Homo sapiens: one gene and its partners. The protein of the gene in region 1 interacts with the protein of each later gene in a biochemical or structural test. Each region holds a gene or a part of one and is shown in the gene's direction. Other genes may lie near its edges.

The links.
Region 2: the proteins of KIT (region 1) and SNTG1 interact in a test that uses a peptide from one of them, tested with the Homo sapiens proteins (one large-scale study listed by IntAct).
Region 3: the proteins of KIT (region 1) and RAPGEF6 interact in a test that uses a peptide from one of them, tested with the Homo sapiens proteins (one large-scale study listed by IntAct).
Region 4: the proteins of KIT (region 1) and FRMPD3 interact in a test that uses a peptide from one of them, tested with the Homo sapiens proteins (one large-scale study listed by IntAct).
Region 5: the proteins of KIT (region 1) and TNS1 form a complex in vitro, tested with the Homo sapiens proteins (one large-scale study listed by BioGRID and IntAct).
Region 6: the proteins of KIT (region 1) and APBA1 interact in a test that uses a peptide from one of them, tested with the Homo sapiens proteins (one large-scale study listed by IntAct).
Region 7: the proteins of KIT (region 1) and MAGI1 interact in a test that uses a peptide from one of them, tested with the Homo sapiens proteins (one large-scale study listed by IntAct).

Annotation. Positions count from the first base shown.
Region 1 is NC_000004.12:54,727,457-54,730,956, forward strand, and holds part of KIT (mast/stem cell growth factor receptor Kit isoform 1 precursor), read left to right. Parts: coding exon 1-86; intron 87-366; coding exon 367-471; intron 472-554; coding exon 555-665; intron 666-1,878; coding exon 1,879-2,029; intron 2,030-3,500. UniProt on the Homo sapiens protein: Tyrosine-protein kinase that acts as a cell-surface receptor for the cytokine KITLG/SCF and plays an essential role in the regulation of cell survival and proliferation, hematopoiesis, stem cell maintenance, gametogenesis, mast cell development, migration and function, and in melanogenesis.
Region 2 is NC_000008.11:49,917,907-49,921,406, forward strand, and holds part of SNTG1 (gamma-1-syntrophin), read left to right. Parts: intron 1-3,500. UniProt on the Homo sapiens protein: Adapter protein that binds to and probably organizes the subcellular localization of a variety of proteins. May link various receptors to the actin cytoskeleton and the dystrophin glycoprotein complex.
Region 3 is NC_000005.10:131,628,730-131,632,229, reverse strand, and holds part of RAPGEF6 (rap guanine nucleotide exchange factor 6), read left to right. Parts: intron 1-3,500. UniProt on the Homo sapiens protein: Guanine nucleotide exchange factor (GEF) for Rap1A, Rap2A and M-Ras GTPases. Does not interact with cAMP.
Region 4 is NC_000023.11:107,456,152-107,459,651, forward strand, and holds part of FRMPD3 (FERM and PDZ domain-containing protein 3), read left to right. Parts: intron 1-3,500.
Region 5 is NC_000002.12:217,817,996-217,821,495, reverse strand, and holds part of TNS1 (tensin-1), read left to right. Parts: intron 1-2,736; coding exon 2,737-3,500.
Region 6 is NC_000009.12:69,445,372-69,448,871, reverse strand, and holds part of APBA1 (amyloid-beta A4 precursor protein-binding family A member 1), read left to right. Parts: intron 1-3,500. UniProt on the Homo sapiens protein: Putative function in synaptic vesicle exocytosis by binding to Munc18-1, an essential component of the synaptic vesicle exocytotic machinery. May modulate processing of the amyloid-beta precursor protein (APP) and hence formation of APP-beta.
Region 7 is NC_000003.12:66,028,919-66,032,418, reverse strand, and holds part of MAGI1 (membrane-associated guanylate kinase, WW and PDZ domain-containing protein 1), read left to right. Parts: intron 1-3,500. UniProt on the Homo sapiens protein: Plays a role in coupling actin fibers to cell junctions in endothelial cells, via its interaction with AMOTL2 and CDH5. May regulate acid-induced ASIC3 currents by modulating its expression at the cell surface.

The DNA of each region.
Region 1 (3,500 bases):
AAATGGAAACAATTATGTTTACATAGACCCAACACAACTTCCTTATGATCACAAATGGGAGTTTCCCAGAAACAGGCTGAGTTTTGGTCAGTATGAAACAGGGGCTTTCCATGTCACCTTTTTGGGTACACATAACAGTGACTTTAAGGAACTCCAGTGGCTTCCTTTGTTTTGTTCCACCTGAAACAATGAGTTTTCTGTGAAATTGCGCCCCTTTTGATAGGTTTGCCATAGAGAACATCGTAGGAAAATGTCTCTGGACAACATTGTTTTTAATTCCTTTATTGATTTTGAAACTGCACAAATGGTCCTTCAATTCCACCACCAGCACCATCACCACTTACCTTGTTGTCTTCCTTCCTACAGGGAAAACCCTGGGTGCTGGAGCTTTCGGGAAGGTTGTTGAGGCAACTGCTTATGGCTTAATTAAGTCAGATGCGGCCATGACTGTCGCTGTAAAGATGCTCAAGCGTAAGTTCCTGTATGGTACTGCATGCGCTTGACATCAGTTTGCCAGTTGTGCTTTTTGCTAAAATGCATGTTTCCAATTTTAGCGAGTGCCCATTTGACAGAACGGGAAGCCCTCATGTCTGAACTCAAAGTCCTGAGTTACCTTGGTAATCACATGAATATTGTGAATCTACTTGGAGCCTGCACCATTGGAGGTAAAGCCGTGTCCAAGCTGCCTTTTATTGTCTGTCAGGTTATCAAAACATGACATTTTAATATGATTTTGGCAATGCTAGATTATAAACTGCTTGGAAGATTTTTTTACCCAGACTGTTGTTCTCTCTTGCTAGATTTTGTTTTCCTCATTGTTCTTAAGAATGCAGATTTTAATTTTATCATTATGGGGTAGAACAGCCCAGGACATACCCTAGTTATTGTCGTATTTGTAACATCAACGACATCAGCCTCTTGAATATCTCATCCCGACCAGAAGGCTTCTGTTATCTTGTAAGCTTTATACATTTCTTGATCATATGTAGCCACTGAAAGGGTTAATATTAATTTGCATACTACAATTTAAAACAGGCGCCTAAGCCTACTGGTTCTCAAATATACACCAAATGAGGCAAACATTTCACTTCTCTAAAAATAAGTTTCCAATTTGAAGCCTTAGTTGAAGTTCCCATCAAGGATGTCTGTGATGTTTGCAGAAAGTATTTCAGTTGAAAGAAACAAAGATGTGTAAAATGAGCTGTTTCTGGAGATCCACGATAAAGTTGACAGCCTTATATCATGTCTTCCAATAATCCCCATAAATGTTGCTTCACCACATCATGAATTGTTCATGAGAAAATTTCTTACCCAAGTTAATTAGTTGCCTGTTACTTCTAAACTACAGTTTAAACATTCATAGCACCAAAAAATTTTTCAACTAGTAGCGCTCAGAACACAGGTCATTTTAGGTTTTCACTCACTTTCCAGTCTTGTCCCAGCTGGCTGCTCCTTGTGGCTGATTTTCCCACTATGCCACAGTTTGTGCCTTCATTATTTCCATAATAACGTTACAGAGAGTGTGTGAAGCCCTGCTGTAAACAGAAGTGAACCAGAGGATTCACGTAGGAAGCTTGATAATAGTAGAATCTTTGAAAGCAGTAACTTCTCTCTGTAAAACCAGCAGTCATGCTTGGCTCCAAATACTAATGTCACTTAGAAATTCAGGTTAAAAGAGGCTTGCTTGTTTTATGTTACTCCACATAAGGCTGCTTTTTTGATAAGCAGTGTTAATATATGGGATTGTATTGGGACTAAGTAGTCTGATCCACTGAAGCTGAATATTAATGGCCATGACCACCCTTGGGTATTTTTATGGGAGGCAGAATTAATCTATATATCTCACCTTCTTTCTAACCTTTTCTTATGTGCTTTTAGGGCCCACCCTGGTCATTACAGAATATTGTTGCTATGGTGATCTTTTGAATTTTTTGAGAAGAAAACGTGATTCATTTATTTGTTCAAAGCAGGAAGATCATGCAGAAGCTGCACTTTATAAGAATCTTCTGCATTCAAAGGAGTCTTCCTGGTAAGACTGATTTACATAAATAGTTAGCTGTTGACAGGCAGTTCATGGGGTCATAAGGGTTTGCAATCAAGGCTGATTCTTTAAAAAATGAACTGAGGTACTCTGAGGTATGAAATCAAAATTATTAAATCATTTAAATGTGATTAACAGTTTAGAAAGTTAAATTGTGTTTTTAAAGATTCAAACCTAGATTTTTGCTGATTTTTTAAAAATGTATTTTCAGTTTTCTTCTACACTTTAGTTCCATGCAACTGAATGCATTCTATATCTGTTTCTCTTACGGTTCTGTCCTGCATGTATTTCCATTTATACTATTGAGCTTGGTACTACATGCATGTTTCCAGTGAGATACTGTTTATAGGGAAAATGCTAAAGCCTCTCAAGTTGCCACAGTAAAGTCCCTTTAAAACCTTTAGCAGAATGACAAAGAGCTCTGAACATATCTCCACATGTAGGCTTCTTGCCATCGACCTCTGGATTATTCCTGTATACCTTGCCTCTTGCCCTTTTTATTTCATCATGCTATTAAAAGACATAACTACTCCAGCACATTTTTTAAAAATTCTGGACATTATTCTCATCTCTTTCATCATTGATGCCATTCTGAATTTGAATCATGTATAAAGAGCTTTGAGTTTGACTTACAACCAGAAAAGAATTCTTCTCATATCTTGCCTATTCTTTCTTTGGAAATGCTCTTAAGGGCCACCATTTGAGAAGACTTCCTAGATGTACCCAGTCCAACAGAAGTCATGGTTATTTTGCCCAGTCCCCTATACTGTATATTGCTGCAGTTGTGTGGTAGATTTCTCCTATCCTTTTCATGCACTTTATATCCACTGCATCTTGCAATGGCAAGACATTGCCTCCTGAACTCTTAACACCAGGTCCTCAAGGAGACCTCAGTAAATATTATTGATGGGCAATTACCCCTTAAAGCCATTTTCTGTACCTCTGGCTAAAGTTTAAAACCCCAGGTGAAACTTTTTATTTTTTTTTAATCCTATAAACTTGAGTAGTTTAAAGTGGTAGTAGAAACTGTACAAAACCACTTTTTGTTAGTTTCTCCTGGGCATGTGCTCATTATATGAAGAAATGAGCCATTTTGCTTCTTTCCGAAACCTTGGCCCTATATATATCCTTTAACTTTCTGATATAATGGCCTAAATTGTTCAATCCTGTGTGATGTTCTTTGTGCTTTGGGATCCCATATGGGATTGGAACCACCAGCACACTCTGAAGGAGATTGTTGTCATGGTGTTTCTATGCTAATCAGAAGCAGGAAGTACTAGAAATCTTGAAGAGTCTCCAGCCAAATGTTGCAGATTGAAGAGGTCCAGATGGTTCAGAAAATCATCCAAATTATTGGTGTTTATCTGAACCAACTTGATTTTTTTTTAAACCTTCCTCCATCAGTCACTATATGTTAACGATCTCTGCCTCCTGCATAACACGTCTTGGAAGCTCTTCT
Region 2 (3,500 bases), on another chromosome or scaffold:
GTGAGAACTGAAAATAGAGAATTTTGTGTGAAATCTACTTTTTGCTTTACCTAATTTCATTGTTAAAATTTTGCATGTAGCGAAACAGACTACATGCTAGATTCCACACATAGCTGCCGAACCTTTTCGTTTCCCATTTCAATGACATTTAATAGAAACCCTAAACTGAGATATTCAGTCAGATTTTTTCCAGACCTTTTTGTTTTTATCTAGAAATGAGACAATGAACCACGACTTGATGAAAAGGTTCATCTTAATATGTTTTTACAATTTTAAAATAAATAAACCTAAAAAATAATGAGTGGCTGAGATAAAATAGATACTTCATGTTTTTGAATGGGCAAAAGTTTTGTGGGGAAAAATTAACTCATAGAACAAATAGGAATGAAGATAGGTCAATAATATTACATAATATGTTTTATTCCAGCATCTTTTCCAGCTACTGTTTTTGCCCCTCATACACATGCAACAGCTACAATAACCCAGATAATAACCTTGATTAACAGTGAGACTAAGAAAAGATTATTAGTTATTGACTAATATCTGCAAATATCCCTTCTTCCCAGAATACAAATTTTCTACTTTTGTGCCTACTCATATGTGTAAAAACAGATAATTTCTTTAGAAAGTTATTTTTTACATTTCATCAGCAAATTATAACACACTCTATAGAATATTCTGTTGGATTTCACAAATTGGAGGCAGATGTCTTATTGTATGTTCGGTGATGTAAGTCCACACACCCACACAACCGCACAAACACAGGGATGGATAAGATTATGCTTTGGTTTGATATATGGCAATTTTTTTTTGTAATTTCTTCTTTTCTAATCCTTGTTAATAGTGACTGTGCCAAAGGGAAAAACAATTCTGCAGTTATTGATGGAAAAAAAGGAGCTTATTTTGCCTAATTGGTATTTGTATATTTTAATTTCTTTTTTTGCTAGAAGTGACAAAATCCCAGCTTAAAGTGGCTTAATCCAAATAAGCAACTAAATAAAAAATATATTTGCAAAAGAGAATTACTGGCTTATGCAGTAGCAGATTATAGCAGGTATGGCTTGATTAAAGTGTTCAAATACTATCCGCATTCTTCAGTGTTGTCTTCATTCCAAAGTACGGTTTGCCTACGTGATAACATTTGCCTCTTTCTCTGTTCTCACTGTCTTTCTCCCTCACTCCTGTCTATGTTTCTGTTTCTGTCTGTCTCTTTTCTCCCCCTCTCTTCTTCATCTCTTTCTCTGTCTTACTCACCTCCTTACCAGTTATAGTTCTACAGTGTTTCCTTCCCAAATCCAGTTCACTTCCTCAATAGTTCCAGTAGATGTACTGGGATTGACCAAGGGAATATTACATATTGGGCTGGATCTTGAAGTAGGATGGGCTTTACAAAACCACACTGATTGAGGGGTATTAGTTATTGACTAATATCTGCAAATATTCCCTCTTCCCAGAACACAAATGACTAGCATAGTGCAGTTTTCAGTGAAAGGGGAGACTACATTAAAGGATAGAAAAGAACAACACTTGTCCTCTACAATGCTAGTGAAGAATCTACCCAAGATTTCTAAGTCACTGAATTTATCTACTGCTGAGGGAATACTCAGCAAAAGTGGGCTCATTGGCTTGTTGTTTCTCTAAAAGCTTTTTTTTCCTAAGGAAAGAATGTCTTAAGATGAAATGTTTGACTTTAAATGTAATTAACATATCAAAGTTTTGTGGGTGTCCTTTTACTATATTATTAACAAATGAATAATATGAAAAGGACACACAAGTGGATTAAAAAATCATTGGGGATAAAAAAATAGTTATTCCAGAACAGTTATTTTTTCTATATTTGGTGACTTTTTTCAGTAGTTTTAAATGATATTTCCTTATTTAACACATGGTGGAGCCTGTTCCAGCTTAGCTAGACTATTTCCCTTTTGTTTTCCTGGTCTGGTTTTAATCTTGAAGAAGTAAAACTCCCGAAAGTAGATTAATCTACTTGTGTACATTTTACACCATTATTATAGATGAGCCAATCAAGAGTAATACAATAGCGCACACTTAGAGTCAAAGTAAGTCAGATTGTGGTAGTTTGTCCAATTCATTAACTTCATAAATTAACTTTATTTTTCTCTTCAAACACATCTTTTTCTCAACTTAAGAATCCTTTTAAGCGATTAGAGAAAACTAAAATATGTCCATTATCTACCTAAGTCATTTGCTTTTATTTTCCATATTGTGTTCTTTTCCAAGAAATCTCCTTGAAGTTGGAACTAGAAGTTTCAGTATAAAGTCTTCATAGGGCATAATAAATGCATTTGGGAAAATGTAACCCTACACTTTAGTTTCCGTTCGTAATACTATTTTCTCACATTCTATGTGTTATACATGATTGTTAGAGTCCTGTTTTAGGGAATCTCATGTGATTCTCACAGCAGGACTAGGAAGCTGACTTTTTCATTCCTGTTTTGCAAATGGGACAATCAAGCTCCAGGAAAGTTAAATGCTTCTCTATAGATTAAGTCAAAATTGAGATTTAGGATCAATATTTAATGCTTTTCTATTCATAAGTGGTTTAGGAAGAAAAACTGCCTCTCTTCTTATAACACCTATTATAGGCTTGACTTGCTTTAGATTGCAGTAAATAAATAAAAAAACAAATAAACAACAACAACAACAACAAACAGAACAGCTGAATTTCATTGACTTTAGTTTTACTAACTAAGTAACTGGAGGCGTTTAGATTCTCAAGAATCTTGAAGGGTTCATGTGTTATCTTGATCTTAATCTTATACAAACAGAGAGGTTTTTGGACAGCATAATCACATGTTGAAAGTCATATTTTACAAGCTTCAGGGAACCATGGTGGACCAGAGTTGATTCTATTGCAGAATTCAGACTTGAGATGATGAGAGCTGGACCTAATTGGGTGAAGGTTAGAAATTAGCCTATTAAAACTAAATGACTAGATGTTAGTGATGCCGCTATCAAATAAAACAAGAATCAGGAGGAGGCCAAATGAGATAGTGTTTTTGTGTACTAGGTAAATGCTCACATATGTAAGTGTGAAATACGCTTCTTTGGAAGGAAAGATGTGATATCTGACATGGGACATGTCAAATGGATAATGAGAGGACATAACAACCAAATGCAGGTGAAGAACCCATTAATTTTAGAAAGAGGGTAAAACCTGACCTATCTAACTCAGAGCTACCGAAGTGGAGATTACTGCTAAAGCTATGAAAATTTATTAGCTATTTGAGAGAATAAAAGAAAAACAATTGTTTACAGACATAAATATCTTTCAAAAGTAAGAAAAAAATAAGAGAAAAGAAGGTCATAAAAGAGTCGTAGAAAGTGTAGGGGAAAGGTATAAAGGAAAATGCATGGAGTTCTAACAAACATACCATGGTTAACAGTGTTGATACTGCACAGAAGTGAAAGGAATGGATGTTTGAGGTTCCTTTGGGTTTGCTCAAAAGCAGATCACAGGGCATCCTGGAGAGAACGAT
Region 3 (3,500 bases), on another chromosome or scaffold:
TGTGAGAGTAGTAAGAGATGAAGGAGGAGTGGAGATAATGATGCATAGCATAGGGCACATCCTATTTGACTTTTCAGTGAGGGGGAGCACTGAAAGATTTTGAAGCAGAGGAGTGATATTGACCTACTTAACCTTTTTTTTTTTTTTTTTTTTTGAGACAGAGTCTTGCTCTGTCACCCAGGCTGGAGTGCAGTGGTGCAGTCTGGGCTCACTGCAATCTCTGCCACCTGAGATCAAGCGATTCTCCTGCCTCAGCCTCCTGAGTAGCTGGGACTACAGGTGTGTGCCAACACGCCCGGCTAATTTTTTGTGTTTTTAGTAGAGATGGGGTTTCACCGTGTTAGCCAGGATGGCCTCAATCTCTTGTCCTCGTGATCTGCCCGCCTTGGCCTCCCAAAGTGCTGGGATTACAGGCGTGAGCCACCACGCCTGGCCTACCTTTTTGTTTTTAAAGAGGGTCTCACTATATTGCCCAGTCTGGTCACTAATTTCTGGGCTCAACAGATTCTCCTGCTTCAACCTCCCAAGTAGCTGGAACTACAGGCATGTGCCACTACACCTGACTACCTTACTGGGTAGTCTCCTGGCTGCTGTGTTGAGAATAGACTGTAGGTGTTTAAGGGCAAAAGCAGGAGGTTAACGGCTGTTATTGCATAAAATCAGGTTAGAGATGATGGTCACTCTGACTAAAGTGATAGTGATAGTAATGGAAGTGGTGAGAAGTGGTTAAGTTTTAGAAATATTTTGTAGGGTTAGCCAACAGGATTTGCTAATAGATCAGATGTGGACCTTGAGGAAAAGAGAAGAATCAAGCATGACTTCAAGGTTTTTGGCCTAAATAACTGGAGTGTTGGAGTTATTGTCAGAGAGGTTTGAGCTGCCATCAGCGAGATGGGAAAAGCTGCAGGAGGAGTAGGTTTTAGGGGCAAGATCAGAAATTCAGTTTTGAACATGTCAAGTTTGAAATGTCTGTTAGAAATGAGTAAGAGGTTGCATATACAAATTTGTATTACTAAGAAGCCTGAGCTGGAGATAACAATTTTATAGTCATCAGTTTATAGATATTGAAAGTCATGAGACTGGGTAAAATTACCAAGTAGTGAGTGTACGTAGAGAATAGAAGAGGACCAAGGACAGTGAGTACCATGGGACATGAGATCAGTATAAGGTCGGGGAGAAGAGTAGAAATCAGCAAAGGAGAATGAGTGGAAGCAAACAGTGCAGTAGGAGAAAAACCGAGAGAGTGGTGGTGCCCTAGAAGCCAAATTAATAAGCTGTAAAATAGAAGGGGATAAAATTATTTGTTTGGCTTATTTTTCCTTGAATACCTACTGGGTGCAAAGCGTTGTGAAAAATATACAAAGGGATGAGAATTAGTATGTTGAAATCATTTGTTTGCATCGTGTAATTGATGAGTAAATAATGAGTAAAGAACTCCTTGTGTTTCTGGGACAAAATGAATGGTTCCTTTATTTTGAACCATCTGTCGTCCTTAGGTGAAACTATCAACTCAGGCATAATCCTAGTGAGCCAGACATCAAGTACAGACACATGTTGTAAAGTGTGCCATTTAGATATCTTTCTAACACAGTGTGTGTGTGAGAGATTTCTCCTACTTATAGATTCAGCTTCCACAGAACATTGTCTTTCCTGAGCTAGTTCTTTCTCAATTTGCAAAGATATTCTTATGGAAAATTTCAGACTTAAATACTCCATGGACAATTAAGTGCACTAAAACAACAAAAACTGTTAAGGTACAGACATACCTCCCAGATACTGCAGGTTTGGTTCCAGACTACTGCAGTAAAGCCAATATCCCAATAAAGTGAGTCACGTGAATTTTATTTCCTAGTGCACATAAAAGTTGTTTACACATATAGTAGTTTATTGTGTGTGATAGCCTTATGTCTAAAAAAAGATATATGCCTTAATTTAAAAATACTTTATTGCTAAAAAATACTAACCAGTCATCTGAGCCTTCAGCTAGTTGTCATCTTTTAGCTGGTGGAGGGTCTTGCCTTAGTGTTGATAGCTGCTGCTGACCAATCAGGGTGGTAGTTGCCGAAGATTGGGGTGGCTGTGACAGTTTCTTAAAATAAGACAATGAAGTTTGCCACATCAATTGACTTTCTTTCATGAAAGATTTCTCTTTAGCATGTGATGCTGTTTGATAGCATTTTACCTACAGTAACTTCTTTCAAAATTGGTGTCAGTCCTCCCAAATTCTGCTGCTGCTTTATCAACTAAGCTTAAGCTTATGTGGTATTCTAAATTCTTTGTTGTCATTTGAACAATATGTACATCATCTTCACCAGGAGCAGGTTGTCTCAAGAAACCACTTTTTTTACTAATGCATAAGAGGCAGCTTCTCATCTACTCAAGTTTTATCATGAGATTGCAGCAATTTAGTCACACCTTCAGGCTCCATCTTCATTTCTTTTTTTTTTCTTTCCTTTTTTTTTTTTTTCTTTTTCTTTGAGACAAGATCTCATTCTGTTGCCCAGGTTGGAGTGCAGTGGCGTAATCACAGCCCACTGCAGCCTCTACTTCCCAGGCTCAAGTGACCCCACCTCAGCCTCCTGAGTAGCTGGTACTACAGGTGCATGCCATCATGCGTGGCTGATTTTTTTTTTTTTTTTGTAGAGACGAGGCCTTGCTATGTTGCCCAGGTTGATCTTGAACTCCTGGGCCCAAGCAATCCTCCCACCTTAGCCTCCCAAAGTGCTGGGAGCCAGCCCAGGCTCTATTTCTAATTCTAGTTCTCTTGCTATTTCTACCACACATGCAGTTGCTTCCTTCACTGAAGTGTTGTACCCTTCAAAGTCATTCATAAAGGTTGGATTCAACCTCTTTCAAACTCCTGTTAGTGTTGATATTTTGACCTCCTCCCATGCTTCACAATTTTTTTTTTCTTTTAAGTGATAGTCTCAATACATTGCCTGGACTGGTCTTGAACTCCTAGGCTCAAGTGATCCTCCCACCTCAGCCTCCCAAAGTGTTGGGATTACAGGCGTGAGTCACCATGCCTGGCCCACAGATGGTTTTAATGGCATCTGGAATGATGAATCATTTCAAGACAGTTTTCAATTTTCTTTTCACAGATCTGTTAGGGAATCACTGTCTATGTCAGCTGTAGCTTTATGAAATGTGTTTCTTAAATAACAAGACTTGAAGGTTGAAACTTTTCCTTGATCCATGGGCCACAGAATGGATGTTGTATTAGCAGGCCTGAAAAAAATCACTAATCTCCTTGTGTACCTCCATCTGAGCTCTTGAGTGACAAGATGCATTGTCAGTGAGTAGTAGTATTTTGAAATGAATCTTTTTTTCTGAGCAGTGGGTCTCATCAGTGGACTTAAAATATTCATTAACCCATACTGTAAACAAACGTGCTGTCATTTAGGCTTTGTTGTTTATTTACTGAGCACAGGCAGAATAGATTTAACATAATTCTTAAGGGCCTTAGGGTTTTCAGAATGGTAAATGATCATTGGCTTCAA
Region 4 (3,500 bases), on another chromosome or scaffold:
CTCCTGGGCTCAAGTGATCCTCCCACCTTAGCCTCTCGAGTTGCTAGCTAATTTTTAGTGTTTCATAGAGACAGGGTCTTGTTGTGTTGCCTAACCTGGTCTCCAATTCCTGGGCTCAAGCAATCCTCCCACTTCAGCCTCCCAAAGCACTGGGATGACAGGCATGAGCCACTGTGCCCAGCCTGTCTTTACTTTTTCTTATAAATATTTTCAACCTCAAAAAAATTAGAGAAAATAGTATAGTAACCCCCACATACTCATTATCCACATTAACTAGTTATCAGGACTTTGCCATGTTTGCTTCACCTATCATGCCAAACATCGATCACATCATTTTATTCCTAATATTTCTCTATGCATTTCTTAAAAACTGGACATTTTCTAACATAACTACAGAACTGCTAATACACCTAACAAAAGTAACAATAATGCCTTTGTATTATCCATTACCCTGTCCATAATCATATGCCCTCAATTGTCTCAAAACATGTTTTACAGTTGGCTTGTTTGACGGACGTTCCAAAAAAGTTCCACACGTGACATTTGGTTGTTATGTCTCTAAAGGCCCTTTCAACAGCCCTCTCTCTTTGACTTGTCACAGAAATCAGGTTGTTTGCTCTGCACAATTCCCACATTCTGGTTTGTCCTCTTATTGCCAGTTAGCTTGTTCACCTATCCCCTATATTTTCTATAAATGGAAGTTAGCTCTGGGCTTGATTAGATTCAAGCTCATTTTTCTTTTTTTCTCGCTTTGGCATAATGATTAAAACAAGATCATTCTGGAGGCAGGAAGACCAGTTAGCCGGTTGTTACCATAGCTGGTTGGGGACAGAAAGAAGATGGGTGAATGTATTTGGAGGTAGAGGAAACCTGATTTACCTACCAATTGAATGCGTGGGGTGAGGAAGAAGGAAGAGTCAAAGATGATTCTAAGGCTTTGAGCCTGCATAACCAGGAGGGTACCAATGTCATCCTATGAGAAGGATGAGTTTTTAATGAGAGCAGCAGGTATCATGGTTAGATTAAAGGAGGAACTTTCTCACTTTCTCACAGTAAGAGGCCATCTGCTCTGTTTTTTTTTTCCAGATAATACTATCTTTCCCAGAAAAAAATTTGATTCGTGGTATAGCTAAACATTTGATAATGTTTGGAAAACATTTGGAAAGGGACTCCGTATTTTTTGTTAACTGCAAATAGTTAAATTTCCAGCTCCAGGGCCTTGAGAGGGAGGATAGTATATACAATTCTGGATAGAGAGAAGGTAATGCTGATATCTCCCTTGCAGATGAGCCTACTGTCCCATATCATCATGGGTTTCTGAGTCATCAGGCTTGGGTAGGAGAGTGTAGGATGCCAGAACCTGGGATTTCTCTAGACACAGCCAATGAGCATAGCTCAAGATCCATGTCTTTCCTTGATATTGGCTGAAGTCTCTATCCCACACCCACTCTTCCACCCAATATGGAGGCTGTGTGGACCCTCAGTGGACCATGGCAACAGTGTTCTTGCCAAAGTCAAAAATTGCCTAAAAGCCCTGGGATATTCACTGGACTCTGACAAAGCCCCAAGATTATTTCGACACCTCAGTAGGAACTTGCTTAACTCGTTGAATTGGATTAGGTGAGAACTACTCTCAGCTCCATCCCATCATACCCTCCTTCATAAAGGCTTTTCTCTCTCTTCCTTCCCCTAGCTCATCTTTCTTCTTGCTTTTTCTTCTGCTCCCCCCTCCCTGCTCTTTCTCTTCCAGCGTACATTTATTCTCTCAAGTTAATCAAACACTGGCCCCTACAGCCCATTGTGCCTCAGATTGATCACTTAAGTAGCGTTATTGATTGCCCAGAAAACCTTAGGAGGTGGGAGTGTTCTGAAAGCTAGGATCTGACAGCTGATTGGCTGCCTATGTCTCACTCGGCAGCCTCAGCTCCTCTGCCGTCTGGAACATCTTTTGAGAAAGGTGAGGGAATGAACAGCGGAGATCCTTAGCGGGCTTCACTTATCTCATCCTTCCTTCATACTGGAGTTAAGGCATGGGAAGAGAAGTCTATTGACCACTCCAGGATCTAGCCCTGTACTAATGTTATGGTGAGAAGGGGAAAGCAAAGGCCCTGCTCTCTGGAAATCCGTAATTTAACAGAAAAATAATACTCATTCATATGAAGTAACTAAGAATAATACAAGATGGAAAACAATTATGTGCCACATTTTTTTGCTCTAAACAGTAAGCACTGTAGGGGTTCAAAGCACAGAGAGAATGAGAGTGTGGGCTGGAATGAGGGGAGAAGTCTTCCCAGAAGAAGTTGAACCTGCGTTATGTTTTGAGTAACATGTGAGATTGAGATTGTTGACTAGAAAAGGAACAGGCTTCTGAGGGGGAGGCACAGCATAGGGAAAAGGCTGGAGATGGAAATGGTCAGGGTGTTATCAAGAAAGGGTCAGAAAGAAGTCTGACTAGAGGAGAGGGTGTATATGCAGGCACAGTGGGGAAAAAATGATTGGCTGGGTATGGGACTCCCAGATTTGAAGAGTCTCTGATGTCAGAAGAAGTTTGGACTTGGGTAAACCTTGGGGGCTGTCGGACAATTATGCATAGTGATTCAGGATGGTTAGCTATGCAGTTGGAAGCAGAATTGATTGGAATAGGGAGAGACTTGAGACCAGCCTATAAGATACTACAGCAATCTAAGTGAGAGGTGATAAGGGTGGTGGCAGTGGGCATAGAGAGGAGGGTCAAATCCAAAAGGCTCTCAAGGCATCGGTGTGGCTGATAAACCACCAAGTAGATTTTCTTGACTTGTTTTTGTCTCACTCGCTCCTTCCTCTTAGCCTCAATACTTACACTTTCTTTGCCTCATGCCCTCAGGACCTTAAGGTGGCAGAGTTTCTGGAGCTAAGATAACATTGGGCATTATAATCAGTTATCCTTTCCAAGTAAAGTAGATGCGCACAGGGGCCTTCAGTACCATGACCTGAAAGAGTGAGCAATGAGGAATCTGGCTGCAGAATGCAGTTGAGATGATAGCCAAGCTGGGGTGCTGAGTATTACATCCCCCAACAGGGAGGCCGGAGGCAGGCGATGCCTGTGTCTGGTCTGTTTCAAGTCCCCCAAGGCTTCTGAGAGCTGGTAAGAGTGAGGAAACATCTTTCAACTTCCCTGGTAGAATCAGTTTGAAAACTCTTCTGAGCACTTGGGAATCATCTCAGTGAAGGTCACACCTGTGCCAGAGTATGGCAAGAGCTACCACAGCACTTTGATGCCAGCTGGAGCCCTGTTGCAGCTGGTATAAGGAAACTAAGTGAGGAGTCCACAGGTTGATGGGAGAGTCATGGCCAGGGCCTCTGCCTGCTAAATTGCCTCCCCCACCAACTTTCCCCTCCCCACCCAATCCACTGAATATCAGCCCTGGATAGGTGTCTGGGCCAGGTCTGCCAGCCCTGGATTGGAGGGAAATAGAGAACTGCAGATAAAGGGATATTTGTGAGATTTTAGTCTCCTTTTA
Region 5 (3,500 bases), on another chromosome or scaffold:
GTGCTGGAAGGAGTGAAGGGTACCACGGTGAATGTGGCAAAGTCCTTCCCCAAGTTGAAAATCTACCAACAGTAATGACTTATGTAGTGGGCTCATCCTAGGTACCTGGCACTTTGCTAAGTGCTTTATGCAGTTATTTAATCCTCGCAGCAATCCTAGGAGGTGAGCACTATTATTGTTCCCACTTTTCAGAAGAGGAACCTGAGGCATAAAGGTGCCACAGCTAAGCAGTGGCAGAAATCAGATTCAGGTGGAAGCGTGTGATTCCAGAGCCCGCATCTCTATCCTCTGCCCCAGACCTGCATCATGGCGCCCTCCCTGCACAGGATGAGAGTCAGATGGGCCCAAAGCCCACACATGAGTGAAGGGCTTGGAGCTCAGAACAAGGGGCCATTATTTCTGGCTAGGGATGCAGCGAGGATTTCTGAGGGCTGGAGGCATTTGTGAAGGGTGTAGAGGAAGTAGCAGGATGTTGAAAGATGAAGAAAGAGAGACAGGGCATTCCAGAAGGACAGCCCAGCAGGGACAGAGGACTGGGCTGTGGCCATGTTGGGAGTGTGAGGCTGAGGGCATGTGGCCTGCCATTAGGGGATGCCTGGGTGGATGGATGGCTGGCATCCATATTTCTGAGTGCATCACACAGAGATGAAAGCCCAGAGGTGGGTGACAGTCCCTGCTGACAGGCTTAGTGGAGGGGTGCAGCAAGGAGCTGCTTGACTGGGGTAGTGGGGGTGAAGGTGGAGGGGACAAAGAGATGGGATGACGGCATAGGAAAGGAGGGTTGCAATCAGCTCAGGCAAGGCATCGAGTGCCAGGCAAAGGAGGAGGACCTAGGAGGTGTCGCCCCCAGGAGGGGAGACTCTGCCCTGACCATCCCTTCTTCGCCGTGCCCACTGCCCTCCCTAGCCTGGGATGTCACAGAGCCTGCAAATTCCCCTGCCAGGCCCAGTGGGTCCAGTTTGCTGCACAGTCTACATTGGCTCAATGCTGAGCCTCCCCTGCAAGTGGGGGCACCATGGGATGACTAGGGGAGCAGATGAGCAGAGGCAACTGTCTTCTGGATTCTAAGCCAAGCATTCCCCTTCCCCAGCCTCTTAACAGGCAGCAGCCTGCGTTGCTCAGGAGGCCTGACTCTGGCCGAGGGTTGCATTTCCTATTTTAAAGGAAAGGGGATTTTCCTAAGTTGTCCCAGCCACCCATTGTTGATGTTCAGTGAGCCCTGGCATTAGGAAGTTGTTCATTGTTTCTCACTCAAATCCCTCCTGCTGAAGTGTTGGCCCTTTCCAGGAAGCTAGCCTTTCTCCCCTGGGATTAGCCTTCCAGAACTCCATTTTAGTGTCTCCTTCTCTCACCCTGCTCAGCCTGGCTCTGTCTCCCACTCCTCAGAATCCAGTTTATTCTGGATTATACCAGGAGGTGGCCTTCTGCTTTGGCCCCTTCTGGGATGCAAGGTAGACTTTGCCCTAGCCTGGCCCCTGACCTTCTCCTTGCCCTTGGCTCTTGCCTGGCCCAAGAGCACACCCCCAACCAAAACCTCATATCACCCCGTGAACCTGAGCTTATCCAGCCTGGCCCAGGGAGGGCCAGCCCACAACAAGATCCTTCCAGCCTGCAGCTCCAGGTTTTGGCCCATTGGCTAAGTAAGGACCTCTCCCCATGGGGGGTTCCTGGTGCACAGCCTGCCTGCTCCCTCCCTACATACTAGTTTATGTAAGGCCCCTGTCAACCTTTGTTTCTCTCACCATAGTTGGATAGAAATTTGGGTCTAGAAGGAGTCAGGGTCACCTAATCCAGTCCTGTCATTTTCCACATGGAAAAACTTTAATAAGCAAAAAAACTCACTGGCCATCACATTGTACTGCTGTGCTTTCATCTGTCACTCCATGCAGACCTAGACTTAACTTTACAAGGGAACCTTTGACTGTGGCAATTACCCCAGGTATAGTCTCCTCTGAACTGAGTTGTTTCAGAGTCAGAATTGGTAGTGACCTCTGAGCTCATCTCATCTAACCTCCCAATGCAGGAAATTCCCTCTACAGCATTCAGGCCAATAGGTCTGTCAGCCTCTGCTTAAATGCTCCTAATGACAGGAGCCTCATTACCATGCAAGACAGCTTTCTCCATTGGTGGCCACATCCCCAGTGGCTGGAGAGCAGACCTTACAATGACCTCAAATCCCCTGATGTGAAACCTTCCCCTGTGATTCCTTGTCTTTGCTTTTTTGGAGCCATCTAGGAGTGAAAGCCCAATTCTAGCACTCTCTGTCAATGTTTAAGGATGATGATATCACACTTGAGGAAACTGAGTCAAGACAGGGCTACTCCCAGTAGGAACAGGAGCCAGGAAACTCCATTAGGAATTTCTGTGATGCTGGAGGCTATAACATGACAGCCACCTCCAGTTTCGATAGGAGAGGGCTCTTCACTTTGACATGGCTCAGGAGTGAGCATGGTGCAGTGGGGAAGACGTGGGCTTTGGAATCAGACACAGCTAAGTTGAAACCCTGGTCTTTTATAAGCAGTGTGGTACTAAGCCTACTGCTTAACCTCCCTGAGCCTCAGTTTCTTCTTCTGATGGTTCTGTAAGGTAACGTATAAAACCCTGATGTCCTTCCGCACTGCCAGTGGGACCATTCTTACTGTTGTTCATGGTTGGAGGGAGGGCAGACAGCCTGCTGTAAATCCACCCTTCATTCAGTTCTGTCCACTGACATCGCAACCTGCCATCTCTCTGCAGCACTTCAGTGGGGAGTTTCCCGTCGGGAGAGAGCAGTGACCAGGGTCCCCGGACGCCCACCCAGCCTCTGTTGGAGTCTGGCTTCCGCTCAGGCAGCCTGGGACAGCCCAGCCCGTCTGCCCAGAGAAACTACCAGAGCTCTTCTCCTCTCCCGACTGTGGGCAGTAGCTACAGCAGCCCCGACTACTCACTTCAGCATTTCAGCTCCTCTCCGGAAAGCCAGGCTCGAGCTCAGTTCAGTGTGGCTGGCGTCCACACGGTGCCTGGGAGCCCTCAGGCGCGCCACAGAACAGTGGGCACCAACACTCCCCCTAGTCCTGGCTTCGGCTGGCGGGCCATCAATCCCAGCATGGCTGCCCCCAGCAGTCCCAGTTTGAGCCATCACCAGATGATGGGTCCACCAGGCACTGGCTTCCATGGTAGCACTGTCTCCAGCCCCCAGAGCAGTGCAGCGACCACCCCGGGGAGCCCCAGCCTGTGTCGGCACCCAGCAGGGGTCTACCAGGTTTCTGGCCTCCACAACAAAGTGGCCACCACCCCGGGGAGTCCCAGCCTGGGCCGGCACCCTGGGGCTCACCAAGGCAACCTGGCCTCCGGTCTTCATAGCAATGCAATAGCCAGCCCTGGAAGCCCCAGCCTGGGCCGTCACCTCGGAGGGTCTGGATCTGTGGTTCCCGGCAGCCCCTGCTTGGACCGGCATGTGGCCTATGGTGGCTATTCTACCCCGGAGGATCGGAGACCCACACTGTCCCGGCAGAGCAGTG
Region 6 (3,500 bases), on another chromosome or scaffold:
TTGCTGAATGCATGGCCAGTGTGACCAGGATGTTCCTCCTCCATGATGGCATCTGTAGACCCCAGTAGCTCTGCACCAAGTGCTGCGGTACTGTAGCTAGACTGAGATTCCACAGCGTTTTTTGGGGTCCTGTAGGGGTTTCCTGAAAGACTTAGCTGGAACATAGCTGTGTGCGTATGTGCATGTGTGAGAGAGAGGGAGAAGGAAGGGGATTAATTCGTGCAAATAGTCATTGTGAGCAAAAGAAAAATCACAAAGCCAGCCTCCTCAGCTAAGGGGGTGGGGGTGGGAGGTGAAGGTGAGTGTATAGGACACATGGATGGTGACTTTTTGTTTTTAATGAAATGGAGTAAATTCTAATTTCACATAAGATAATCACATCTGGAAAGAAATAGTCCTCTTTGGCCTCCTTTAATTTCTTTTTCTTATATCTTATACTTAAATAAATTCTACCTCTTGCTTAATACACGTTAAAGGTAAGATTAGAGAATCAACTTTGAACATGGATATTCATTCAGAAAGGTTTAATTGGGCCTCTGTGAGGCACTGAGCTGCGCTCTGAGGAAGCTGGCTTGCCAGTGTGCATGTGCAGGATAATTAGAGACGTGCAAGGGCTCTGCGGCCAACATAAAGGTGAGAGGCTACAAGTGATTAGATGGACAATTTTATGTGATTTTAAAGTTGACCTTGAAGGAATAAAACCTAGGTAGGTAGCAGAAAGGGAAGTGGCGTTTGGAAGTTTCTGCTTGAATTGATGGACAGGGGCCGGTGTTGAGTCAGGGAGAGATGGGGTCTGAGCCTGGCCCGGAACGGCTGGTCTGGTGTTGCTGTGATTGCATGGAGAGGCAAGCGGGGGGGTGGGGCTAGGGAGGCAGGACCACAAGTCGCTCCTGCCAGTGAGCAAGTTGCTTATTAAACACCTTGGGTGCATGCATGAGAACTGCTGAGGGGCTGTGGGACCCAGGGGCCCCGTGGACACAGTCCCTGCCCCCCAGGGAGCTTGGTCGGTTTGAGGAGAAGTGAAAGGACTTATGGCTCACAGTGCTCAGTGCTGTGTGTCTGTGCTCTGGATGCTCTGAGAATATGTGTGGACTGACTTGCTGAGCCTTCGGGGCAGCATTCTGTGGGCAGGTACTATTTTGTACCCATTGTACAAGCTAGGAAGCTGAGGCACAGCAAGATGATGTAATCGTCTGTGGTCATACAGCCTCCAATACAGAGTCATCCCAGGGAGGGTGTCAGGTGAAATGCTAGGCCCAAGGCCAGACCATGGGGCAGTACTTCTCAGCCAGGGGTGATCTTCATCCCCCAAAATGTATGGAGACTGTTTGGGTTGTCACGGAGGAGAAGGTGCTGCCAGCATCCAGTGGGTAGAGGCCAGGGATACTGTCAAACATCCTACAATGCACAGGACAGCCCCACAGCACAGAGTTATCCAGCCCCAAATGTAGGTAGTGCTGAGGTTGAGAAACTGCCTGAGCGGCATAGGAGTTCAGATGCAAGAGAGAGAAATCGATGAGAGAGGGAAGCTGGTTAGGGATGGTTTGTGGGGAGTTGGTCTGAGTCTAGAAGGGTTGGGGAGGAGGAGCGGGGATAGGGGGTTAAGTAAAGTATTGAGTAATATTTGTGTTCCCTCCAAATACATATTGAAACCCTAATCCCAATGTGATGTTATTTGGAGGTGGAGCCTTTAGGAAGTGATTAGCAGGAGGGTGGAGCCCTCATGGTTGGGATTAGTGCCCTTAAAAAAGGGACCCCAGCAAGCTCTCTTTTGGTATGTGAAGATGCTAGAAGTTGGCCATCTGCAACTCAGAAGGGGCTCTTGCCAGAACCTGACAGTGCTGGTACGCTGAGCTCAGACTTCCAGCCTCCAGAACTGTGAGGGATAAATGCCTGTTGTTTATAAGCCACCTAGTCTGTGGTACTTTGTCATGGCAGACTAAGAACAGACTCAGACAAGGGGAGGACTTAAGTAAAGGTGGGGATGGGGCCTGGGCAGGAACAAGCCGCGCTTCCTGAGGCCCTTAAGACTCCAGCTCATGGCCTGGAGTCACCTCCTTTCCTCCTCAGGACAGCCCACAAGGGGGACAGCAGATGCTAGGTGCACAGATGGGCCATCAGAGACTCTAAAGGCACAGGAGACTTGCCCAGGGCCCCCAGCTGGCCAGTGAGTCCCCACCCTCCTGCGAATCGCTCCTTCCTTATCTGCGTGGGGACCAGAGGAGGGAAGCAGTGAGGCTATGAGGGCAGCCTGACTCCCTCTGCAGCTGCCACAGCATCAAGGTGGAAGCAAAGCTTGCTGGAGTACAGACGGAGCTCTGTCTGCACAGTTTCCTAAGGGGAAATGGATTGTTTGAGGAGCTGAACTTTGATGTCTATAAATGTAATCTCTATAGAACCAGAAAATTAAAAGGCCGAGTGGTGATAAAAGAGATGTAACTGATGAAGATGAAGAGTAAGAAAAGAAAAGCAGTGCTTTCGTGGCCACCCATAGTGAAGAAGTACTTAGCAGGGCAGACCCCGATTAGAGCACAGCTGAACTTCCTCCCTGCCACAGTGCGCCGCTTGTTGAATGGGGAAATGTGATGGTCCGTCCGTGGACCACCCTGGCTGGTGGGAGGTGTAACCACTGATAACAGCCAGAATCACCAGTACCAAATACAGACTGACATCAGTGGGTCGTATCACCTTTTTAAAATTCTCTAGAAAACACACCCCTTTTTGCCTGCACCTGGACAGATGTGCACACTGCCCTACCCCCACCCCTCGGGCCACTGCAGAGCAGCATCTGGACCACTTCAAGGCTGTGTTCAAATTTGTTTCAGTGTATGTCCATGCTCTTTGCAGTGACTTTGACAAGCAACTCTCATCCTGATGAATCAGTGCTTCTCAAACTGATTGGAATCACCTGGGGATCTTGTTAGAATGCAGGTCTGATTCAGCAGGTATAGGGTGGAATTCTGCATTTTTGGCAGGCTTTGCGGCGGGGATGGCATCACCAGTCTGCAGGCTACACTTTCAGGAACAGGGATCCAAAGTGTGCATTCTGCATCTGGCCACTTCAATACTGGTTGACTATTGTCCCCCCAGGTTACAGGAAATCAATTTCTAGAGTAGAATTATAGGTATTGACTTGCCTTACTCTTCCTACCTTATTTTTTGGGTCATAATTAATTCCCAAGGCATAATTATTGGTGGGTGGAACATTTTACAGGCTGCCTCTTTCTGTGCCTTTGCCTCTGTGGTCCTGCCCTCTGGGTTTTTGCTCTGTTTTAGAATAGCGCACAGCTTCCCTTGCTTCCCCAGGAGCATCATGGTTCTGCTCTCCCGTTGCTATAGAGACCATTCTGGCTTCTCTTTTCTCTCTTCGCCCCTCTTCTCTGGGCTTCCCCTCCCACCAGATTTCTTAATTTGCTGTACCGTTCCACTGTTGTCATGGGGACCAAATGACCCTTTATTTAATTGGCACCTCCAATAAAATGGCAGCTCAGAAATCCAAG
Region 7 (3,500 bases), on another chromosome or scaffold:
GAAACCCTGTCTCTACTAAAAAAAAAAAAAAAACAAAAAAATTAGCCGGGCGTGGTGGTGGGCGCCTGTAATCCCAGCCACTAGGGAGGCTGAGGCAGAGAATTGCTTGAACCCGGGAGGCTGAGGTTGCAGTGAGCTGAGATCGCGCCACTGCACTCCAGCCTGGGTGACAGAGTGAGACTCATCTCAAAAAAAAGACCCAGCAAATAATAGGTGCTCACTAAAATTGGTTGGATGCCTGAATGACTATTCCATTGTTTCGGAAGGTAAGTGCAACTAGGCCACTTGCAACATCTTTCCTCCCTTTCTCTCGATTTGTCTTTTACTTCTTGTTTAGGATCCAGAGGTCTTCACTTTCTCGTAATCAGATCTTCCAATTAGCAGGCTTTCTGTGTCTAATAATTTATACTGGGCTATAAATGACTGACAAGGATTAATGAATCCTATTCAAGTATTTCTGCCTGTTGACTCTAACTGAAGTTTAACAAGTGAGCCTCTAAACGTGAAATTTCAGATGTTCAGCAGGCAGGATGATGAGGATTTTTTTTGTTGATGTGGGACCTGTGTCCTCATGCCTAAAAATGATTCTTTCCCTCCGTTTTCTTGCAGCATTGTCCCTGTGTACTTTTTTTTTTGGCTAATAGCAAATCAGATCTTTGCTACAGAACACAATCCAATTTTAGCCCTCTCGCTCTTAAATTGTACTTTGTATTTATGTCTTTTTTTTTTTAACTTAAACTTTCAAAAATCAACCTGTTTTTGTTCTTGGTGCCAAAAGACCACTCTTGGAAGGATATTTTTAGGTTACACTGTGGAACACTGTACAGGTTTTACAAAAAATGAAGCAAGGACGTACAACGCACTTGTCCATCGTTTCCAGTGGCCACCCCTTGTCATTGGCTGTGTTATTTAAAAATAGATTAACTTGACCTTCTGTGGCAATGGCATACAGTTGGCTCACCGTGTTTCTTGGCATTCATTACCCAGCTGGTTTTAGATGGCAGAATTGATGATATCCACCAAGGGGAATTAAGTGGTTTATAAGAGAAAACATTCTGACATCTCCTTACCACAAGGGTTTACATGAAGGATGTTGCTTTGTAAACGAGGGTTATTTAATGCAAAGCACCACTCTCTGGTGTTAGTGGCCCTTTCCTTGAGTTTGTATATACAAGTAACAGGATATACTGATTTTGTATACACTGAGAATAAAGGCTGTCAAATTCGTTAAGGGCTGACATTCACATCCTAAAAAAGTAGGTTACTGCATGCCTGCCTGTCTTTTTGCAGCTCATATGTGAGATCTGTAACCTTGAAAAATCCCTAGTACACACTGGTGCATTGCTAGACTTCTCCCCTATGGAGGTCGGCATCGATGTAGTATTTCTTATGAATTCATTTTGTTGTTTCAACAGATGTCAAGGTTGGTCCTATCATATTGACTCTGCTTTCTAGTTAAGTGTCCTGTGGAGGGTCTAATGTGTTCTGGATGTCAACTTTTCCGAAGGCATGTAGCAAAATTAGAAAATGTAATTTGAGCAGTGTCTTTTATGATTAAATAGAAATCTTCTCTTTTTATGGCTCAGTAATTACATAATGGAATAATCCATTATTAATCATTTCTGTAGTCTCTGTATCTGAGTGAAAGCCGAAGTCCTTATAGTGACTTCCAAGGCTGCCCGTGACCTGTCCTAAGGATATTACTTCTCTTTCTCTGTCCTGCCTGCTAGTGCCCACCTGATCATCTTACAGGCTTGCTATCTCTTGAGCTTCAAGTCTTTCTGAAATGTCACCTGCCCAGTGAGGCCTCTTGTGAGCACATTATTGAAAACCATAACTCCACTGCCACGTGTCATTCCCTGTTCCCCCTCTCAGCTTTATTTTACTCCATAGTATGTAGATCGCTTCACCACAAGTAAATTTCTTATTTTACCTCTTTCTCTAGAATGTAAGCTCTGAGATGGCAGGAATGTTGTCTTGTTCTCCCACAGTATCCCCAGTAGCAAAAACAGTGCATGGTGCCTAGTACTTGCTTGGGTATTTGTTAAATGTTTACAGTCAAGTTTAGAACTAGAATAAATCTCTTCTGAGGTCAGTTACCTCTGAAAATGTAGATATATAGAAGTCCCTGAAAATTTAGGTGACTGATGATGGATCACATTAAAGTTGGTTAGAGTTTAACATTTACAGTCAATGGCTGGGGCTAAAATAGAGCTTAGCCGATTGATCCAGGAATATTCTTAAAGTCAGTGAACATTGCTGGCCTGCTTCAGTTGGTCTTAGTATTATGGGTTTACAAGTAAGAACATGTGGGTCCTTGGTTTCTTGTCAAGAAGGGGAGGGAAGAGTCCACTGGAGTCTCCTTGGAGTCAGAGATAAGGTCACATTTCCAATTTTAGGTTTCCCTGCATGGAAGAGGTCCTTGACTTTAAAATTAATTGAGTGTCCTGATTTTCAGAGGTTACTTTGATTTGGGAAATGACGGTAACAAGGGGTACCAGGTGGCTGATCCAAACAGGAGAGCTGAGGCTACTAGAGTCACCATGAAGATCTTGTCGAGTTAGGGATAGGTCTGTGCACAGCATCCCTTACTTAGCCAAGTCATTGGCCTCAGTCCACTTTCAGTCCTGTGTGCTCCCCACCAACATGAATCCCTAGAAGGCAACTCTAGGTCAGGATTTGAATGCACAGGGCTTATCTGGGAGGTGCTCCCAGGAAGTTCCAGTAGGGCAAGGAAGAGGTGAGACCAGTGAGTCAAGAAGGCCAATGGAGATGCTTTAAAGAGCAAGTCACCACTGTGTGTCTAAGGCAGCCCCATGCTGAGTGTGTCATGGAACTTTGCAGACTCTCTCACCCCTAAACAGACTGAGAGGTTCTTCTGGCTGTGTGTATAGACTTTTTCTGTTACCATCTCCAGTGTCATGAAGATGAGTTCCATAAGATAATTACATTCTCATGGCTAAGGTATCAACCCCACCATTACTGTGGATGGAGGCATTTGTGTGTCTGTTTAATGGGCCACAGTTATGCTTCTTACAATAAGGATAATCTTTACTCCTTTATGAGACAAGACTCGAGGCTCTCTTTATGGACAGGGGCATGATGGTGCAATTAAAAGGCGATCGTGCCCTGATTATAAGCCATGTTTCAAAATTACTGCTATATATAGTGTCATCAGGACCGTAGTACTGCTCATAAAATGATCCACAAATAGCAATTTACTGATGTGTCATAGAGTCAGATTTTGGACCCAAGGTTGGCTTGGGTGAAGAGGCAGGCTTTACACTTTATGAGCTGGGTGTTCTGGGGCAAGATGCTGAACCTCTTTGTGCCAGGTTTCCCCCTCGGAAAATGGGGATAATAATGATACCTACTCTCTAGGGTTGTTGGAAAAGTAGAAAGTAAACCACATGACACAGGGCTTGGCACATAGTGAGTGCTCAATAAATGTTGGCTTCTGTAATTGTTTGAATGCTCCCCATTTGAAAGCCCTTGGGAGA